2 linked regions of the Homo sapiens genome follow. The protein of the gene in region 1 purifies or fractionates together with the protein of each later gene. This does not show direct contact. Each region holds a gene or a part of one and is shown on either strand. Other genes may lie near its edges.

The links. The genes of interacting proteins can lie anywhere in the genome.
Region 2: the proteins of PPP4R1 (region 1) and FASTKD5 purify together in Homo sapiens (affinity purification with mass spectrometry; one large-scale study listed by BioGRID and IntAct). This does not show direct contact.

Annotation. Positions count from the first base shown.
Region 1 is NC_000018.10:9,583,548-9,587,200, forward strand, and holds part of PPP4R1 (serine/threonine-protein phosphatase 4 regulatory subunit 1), read right to left. Parts: intron 1,282-3,653; coding exon 1,174-1,281; intron 1,034-1,173; coding exon 968-1,033; intron 1-967. UniProt on the Homo sapiens protein: Regulatory subunit of serine/threonine-protein phosphatase 4. May play a role in regulation of cell division in renal glomeruli. The PPP4C-PPP4R1 PP4 complex may play a role in dephosphorylation and regulation of HDAC3.
Region 2 is NC_000020.11:3,153,258-3,156,910, reverse strand, and holds part of FASTKD5 (FAST kinase domain-containing protein 5, mitochondrial), read left to right. Parts: intron 1-3,653. UniProt on the Homo sapiens protein: Plays an important role in the processing of non-canonical mitochondrial mRNA precursors.

The DNA of each region.
Region 1 (3,653 bases):
GTAGAAATGAGGGTTCACCATGTTGGCCAGGCTGGTCTCGAACTCCTGACCTCAGGTGATCCACCTGCCTTGGCCTCCCAAAGTGCTAGGATTACAGGTGTGAGCCACCACGCCCAGCCTCAGTGTTTTAAATGTTGGATTGTCTTAAAAAGTAGGATCTATTAGTATTTATACTCAACAATTTTCAATAAATCACATCTAATTTACTGTCTATTCCTAAAAGTATAAAAAATAATGTATCTTAAATTATAAATATATAACATATAATAATATATCTTAAATTTTAAGTTATTTCTTATGAGTCAAAATTATGTTTGCTTTAAAACGGACAGAAATGTATTATTTCACAAAAGTGATAATCAAAACCCTACCCAACATGAAAGATCACTGATAAATTAATAAAAAGTGCTGATAATTTGGTCCGTCGGATTTCTGGCTATGCAAAAGCATACTGGATTGTCTTATGCAATATTTCTGGCTATGCAAAAGCACTCCCAACAATCATAGCTTAAATGTTTTACAAGAGCTTGCCCCTGAACTTAATTATTTTGCATAAGAGATGGCTTCAGAAACTCTTTAGATATGGTGACTTATACATCAAGTATAGGCATCTTGTGTACTATTTAAAACTAACTTGCTATAGATTTAATATGTCATCAACATTCTTGAGGGTTGCAATAAAATTAAAGGTTCAATTGAATAAGTAAGAATTGATTTGCTTAACAGAAATGGAAGAGGTGAAAACAGATCAATGGTTCTGAAACATATCCATATTTTTAATAAATATCAAAAAGATAATTCAAATGCCCAGATTACAGATATTTAAACTCCTAAATTCAAAATTATCTTTCTGGTTTATATTCATGGAATTGTGTTAATAAAACTTTGGAGTAAATGTGTGCATTTCAAACTTTATGTACTACTTTGTAACACACACTGTTTACTCCTTTATATCTGCAATACTTACCAACATTTCTTCAGTAGCTTGCTGGCCAACTACACTGCAAATATCTCCAAAATTGGCAGCACAGACCTGACAACAAAAGCATCATTGACATTTCAAAATATTACACATAAGGTTCTTCTAAGATAATCTTTTAAATATCATGTATCAGTACATTAACCACTAGAACTATGTTCTTAAACAGCAGAAAAAAAACGACAAAAAAATACCTTTCGAACGTGAAACATTCTGCAATCGCAGCACATCTCACAAAACCTAGGGAGGATAAGACGCTCTGTAATATCCTTCCCAACCATGGGAGCCATTTTGCACATTATCTAAAATAAGTAAGAACAAACACACACTGAAAATATCAAGTAAGCCTCTTTCAGTTAAATTAAATAATAAAAGTATATAATTTGAGGAAACATAAAATATGATATGGCATCATTATACTATATACATGACAGAAAACATTCATAGCCAATTATTAATTTCATCTTATTTATCTAAGTAGGAAACAAAGACAGATATTAACCACAATCAATAAAAACAACCAATAAATACTGCATGCCCAGTAAACCCACAGAAAATCCTAACAATTTCATTTTTGTCCACAGTTTCCATCTTACTACTACTTCATCATTTTGCCTGGTAATTTTAAAAGCAAAACAAACAAACAAACAAAAACCTACATTTTCCCAATTTAAAAAATTGGTGACTGTTCAAAGGGAAAACTATCCCCAGGAAAGATCTAGATTTAGCATATCTGTATTGCTAAGAAAAAATTCAGTCCTCGCCTTGCAAAGCACCCTGTGAACTAAAGCTCATACATATCAGAACCATGTCCTGGTTTTGCAAAGCTTCAGTTCCAGGGAAAGCATGAACACAGTTCTGATATAGGCATGTTTCAGTTAACACAATAGGAGGCAAAGTGAGGATTAACTTTATTTGAAAACTGGCCCTCTATTTAGATACATTGTTCCCACAGTTAATACAGAAAGAAATGGGATAGCCTGTTGTCATTTATCAATTGTATCAATTGCTAGACTGTACAAACAGGACAAAATAAAGAAGTAAAAGAGATACAGATTGCAAAGAAAGAAAATTCTCTCTATTCAAATACGACATGGTTGTCTACACAGAAAATCAGAAGGAATCTACAAAGAAGCCACCAGAATAAGTATGTTTAGGAAGGTTGTAGGCTATAAATTAGAATATAAAAATCTATTGTATTTCTACAAATTAGCAATGAACAATGAACTGGAAACATTTAAGAACAGTATCACTCACAGAAGTACTTTTAAAAAATATGAAATCGAACAAAATACACACAAGAACTTTCTGCTGAAAACTACAAAAGATTAAAGATATAAATCAAAGACCTAAATAAATAGATCTACCATGTTCATAGACTGTGAAACTGGCAATTGTCTCCAAATTGATCTACAGATTCAACACTATCCCCATGAAAATCCCACCATCATCAGAACTAGAGATAACGCCTACATCTCCTAAATCCCAAAACCAGTTTTGTTTTTTGAATAAGCATCTCCATGCTCTAGTTAACAATCCAAAGTTATGCTGTATATCACTGATGTAGCATAACTAAATTTATTTAAAAATGAATTATTTTTATTAAGAAATTAATTTTTATTAAGAAATAATTATTATTTCTCTATCTATTAAGATAGAGAAAATATGGGAGCCATGGAATATAAAACATGACCAAAAAACAAACACAACTGTAAGAGAATCATAAGACTCCTACTAGCACTGGATATAGTTTTTAAATTTTTTATTGTAATGTTTTACTAATTTTACATTGCATCGAGAATTATAATACAGCAAGTTAAACGGCTCAATATAAACCAAAAATTAGGCCAAGCCCAAAACTGATTTCCTTCATTGCAAAAATCCTAAAGTGAAAAAAGAAATAATGATGTTTTGGAACTAGGAAGAAGTGGTGGTTATACAACTTTGTGAACATATTAAATGCCACTAACACTAAAATGATTTTATGTCATGTAAGGTTCACTTCAGTAAAAACATTACTGAAAAAGTAAATTTATTATTAACTGGTAACTGAGTATCTAAAAATAATAGATTCAAGAAATTCTTCAAGGGAAAGAGACTAGAGAGATCATCTAATTCATCCCATTACTGATGATCCAGAAGCACTAAATATAGTGTGATTATTAAAAAATATCAACAAAGACGCAACCATATTATTTTAGGCTTAAGGAGTGAACTCTTACTATCCAAATAGATATGAATAAATTTCCAGACGAATTTATCACTTTTCTAATTTACCATGAGAATTACTACTATCCGAACTCAGGAACCAGATGTGAATCACAACAGATACTACTCTATACTAATTCATGCCCTATCATGGCCTTCAAGTAATCAGAATATTTGCAAACCATGTCAAAAAAAAACCCAGAAACTTCCTATTACATTTGACTTTATGATGTGCGTAATGACTTAACAATCTGTATATTCTTCTGATAACCATCACTGATGTCATATATCCTGGGAAATGTACTTGCCTGACCATCCTTCCCACAAAGACCATACCTGTCAGAGCAGGAGCAAAGTATTATTTTATTTCCACTGTGCTTACACAGTGCCTAGAAAAGTGTTCAATACCTACTGAAGGGGTTCAAGTGTTTCTTCGTTCAGTCCAGGGTTTTTAAAATTTTAACTG
Region 2 (3,653 bases), on another chromosome or scaffold:
TGTTCATTTATTTGTGGCAATTTTATTGGGACATAGAAAGGAAAAGTGTTAGAATTGAGGGATCAGATCTGGTAAGTGGTAAATTGTATGTGTTTAAGGTGTCTTATACTCAGTCTACAGTTAGCATCGCTCCTTCCTCTGCCTGGCCCCCCTCCTCTAACTTCTAGACTCTAGTTTAAAATGAAGCTATTCGGCTCTGCTCAGACCGGTATGTGGAAGGGAGAAAGGTAAGATTCTTCAGTCCTGTGAAATCACATCATTCAGGGAGGTTTGGGCATTGCCTTTTGGAACTGACAGGGTCCAGGAGTGTCTGAGGCTCTACTCTGTTTCGTTAGGACCCCTAAAGGGGAGAAAGGTATACTTGGGGCACTTAAACTAGGAAAGGAGTTTTGTGAAATCATATCAGGTATCTTTGACCTTTATTGAAAGAGTCAGGCCGGGCGTGGTGGCTCCTGCCTGTACTCAGTACTTTGGGAGGCCAAGGCAGGTGGATCACTTGAGGCCAGGAGTTTGAGACCAGCCTGACCAACATGGCAAAACCCCGTCTCTACCAAAAAATACAAAAAAATTAGGTGGGCATGTTGGCGTGAGCCTTTAGTCTCAGCTACTTGGGAGGCTGAGGCAGGAGAATTACTTAAACCCGGGATGCAGAGGTTGCAGTGAGCTGAGATCACGCCACTGCACTCCAGCCTGGGCAACAGAGCAAGACTCTGTCTCAAAAAAAAAAAAAAAAAAAAGAGTCAGAAGTTAATTGACTGAGCATCTCATAGTGTTCTCTTTCCAGCTTTCCTATGGATTTTCTGAGAGTCTTTGAGTAAGGAGGAACTAACCTTCTCAGGTATGTTTTCGCTATCTGGTCATCCTGACTGCTGCTTCTTTGCAGTGTCTTTTCTCCCTACTGTTCTTCTCTGCTGCTTCTGTATCTTCCTTGTTTTTCTTTCCTTCTCCACAGTACTCAAGACCAACTTCTGAAGTCCTCTGTTTCAGACCTGTGTATGTAGATACAGTTTCTATAGAGTTACTGTAAATGTTGCATAGTGAAAAGAGTAAGTAGCCACTGTTTACCATTTGTAGGTTGGCTCTTCATGCCTCTAAGATTCCTTATTTTGTTATCATTTCTGTTATTGAACATCTTTAAAGAAGTTCTTAGGTAGTAGAAAGTGCTTGCACTAAAAATAACTTTTCAACATTTTCCTTATCTATTAAGCTACTTTCTCCATTCATTATCTTGAACAATACCATAATATCTTCATAATACATGGATTTTTTAATTTAATTTTTGTCAAAATTGTACATGTACATGGTTTAAACAGTCAAATAGTTCAGTAGAGCTTGTAACACTAAATAATAGTTTCCTCTCCCGACCCACTTTTTTTTTTTGAGATGGAGTTTCGCTCTGTTGCCCAGACTGGAGTGCAGTGGTGCGACCTCGCCTCACCACAACCTCTGCCTCGCGGGTTCAAGTGATTCTCCTGCCTCGGCCTTCTGAGTAGCTGAGATTACAGGTGCCTGCCACCATGCCTGGCTAATTTTTTGTATTTTTAGGAGAGACGTGGTTTCGCCACGTTGGCCAGGCTGGTCTCAAACTCCTGACCTCAGGTGATCCTCCTGCCTCAGCCTTCCAAAGTGCTGGGATTACAGACTTGAGCCGCTGTGCCCAGCCTACTTTTTGTATTTTTAGTAGAGACAGGGTTTCACCATGTTACCCAGGCTGGTCTAGAACTCCTGGCCTAAAGCAATCCGCCCACCTCAGCTTCCCAAAGTGCTGGGATTACAGGTGTGAGCCACTCACTGATCCTGGCCATCACTATATTTATTTTTTCTTTTCTTTTCTTTTCTTTTTTTTTTTTTTTTTTTTGAGACTGTGTCTTGCTCTGTCGCCCAGGCTGGAGTGCAGTGGCACGATCTTGGTTCACTGCAACCTCTGCCTCCTGGGTTCAAGTGATCCTCCTGCCTCAGCCTCCCAAAATATTGGGATTACAGTTGTGAGCCACCACACCTGTCCAATTGTACTTCTTTATTATGGACTTTGAGGCTCTAGGTCTCTTGTATCATCAACCTCCCCCTACTCCTCCTCTTACTCACTTTATCCTCCCAATATAGTTTGCTCATAATTTTTGGTTAGGCTAATATCAAGATTTATATTAATAAAATTATGTTAGTATTATTCTCAACTGAATAGGGAGTATGATATACTAATATTTTCTTTACTCTTTTTATTTATTTATTTATTTTTTGAGATAGGGTCTCTCTCTGTCACCCTGCCATAGCAGGATCACAGCTCACTGCAGCCTTAACTTTTTGGGCTCAAGCAACCTTCCCACTTCTACCTCCTGAGTAGCTAGGACCACAGGTGTGTGCCACCAGGCTTGGCTAATTTCTAAATATTTTGTAGAGGTGGGGGTCTCACTACATTGCCCAGGCTGGTCTCAAACTCCCGGCCTCAAGTGATCTTCTCACTTTGGCCTCCCAGAGTACTATGATTACAGGAATGGGCCATTGCATCCTGCCTGTGGTAACATATTCTATCTTGTATAACTTTTTTGTCTTCCCTGGCATTAATAATTTTTGTTACTGTTTTTATTAGCATGGCTTTTTGTATCCTTATCTCTTGTTCATGCCCGGATTATCCGGTAGAAGTATGATTCTCCTCTCCTGGGTACTGTCTATGTCGTCCAGCATGAGCTGGTTGCTCTTTATGTCTGTTCACAGCTCTTGTCCTGGGATCTTCCTTCACCTTTTTCCTGGGATTTCCCTTTGCTTCTCTGTATTGAACCCTAGTTTCTGGATCCCATATCTCTACTGCCAACTTTCAGGTCTTCAATTGTGGTAGCTCTCCTTACTTTGATCCTGGAGCATCCTGCGAACTCTTTGCCTCATGTAGATTTCAGCCTTTGAGGTCTTCTCTTTGTTCTTTTTTAAAGTACAGGTTGAGCATTCCAAACCTGAAACTCCAAAATGCAAAATGCTCCAAAATCTGAAACTTTTTGAGCACCAACATGATACTCAAAGGAAAAAAAAATGATTGGAGTATTTCAGATTTTGGATTTTTGAATTTGGAATGCTCACTGGTCAGTATAAAGCACATAGTCCAAAAACTGAAAAAGTTTAAAATCTGAAACACTTCTGGTCTCAAGCATTTTGGACAAGGGATACTCAACTTGCAGTATAAACCGTAGTGATAGAATCGTAGACTGTTAGAGGTGGAAGGGACTTTCAAGCTTACCTAGTTCTAACCCTCCAGCTCCCTGGCACCTGGAAATCCTAGAAGACCATAGATTGTTCAGCCATCCCACCCCGTACTGCCCCCCGAACCTGTTTTCTGACATCCATTCTTGTCTCTCTAGTACACCAATAATGTGGGCTGAAGAGTCAGACAGTCTTTAATATTAGGCTCCACTCAATCCCTTGGCTGTGTAACTTTTGGCAGGTTTCTTAATCTTGTGGTCTCTTTCTCATCAGTAATATGGGGATTATAAACTTACATTACAGAGATGTTATAAGGATGGGAACTAATGCAGATAAAGCAGCTTTACAAGGCTCTAAGCCTTGGCACAGAGGAGGCCCTAAGGCATAGCTCTGGTTATTTCCATCTTGGATCTTAGCCTGTGTTTTTACAAATCAAAAAGTGTCACATGAATTCAAAACACTGG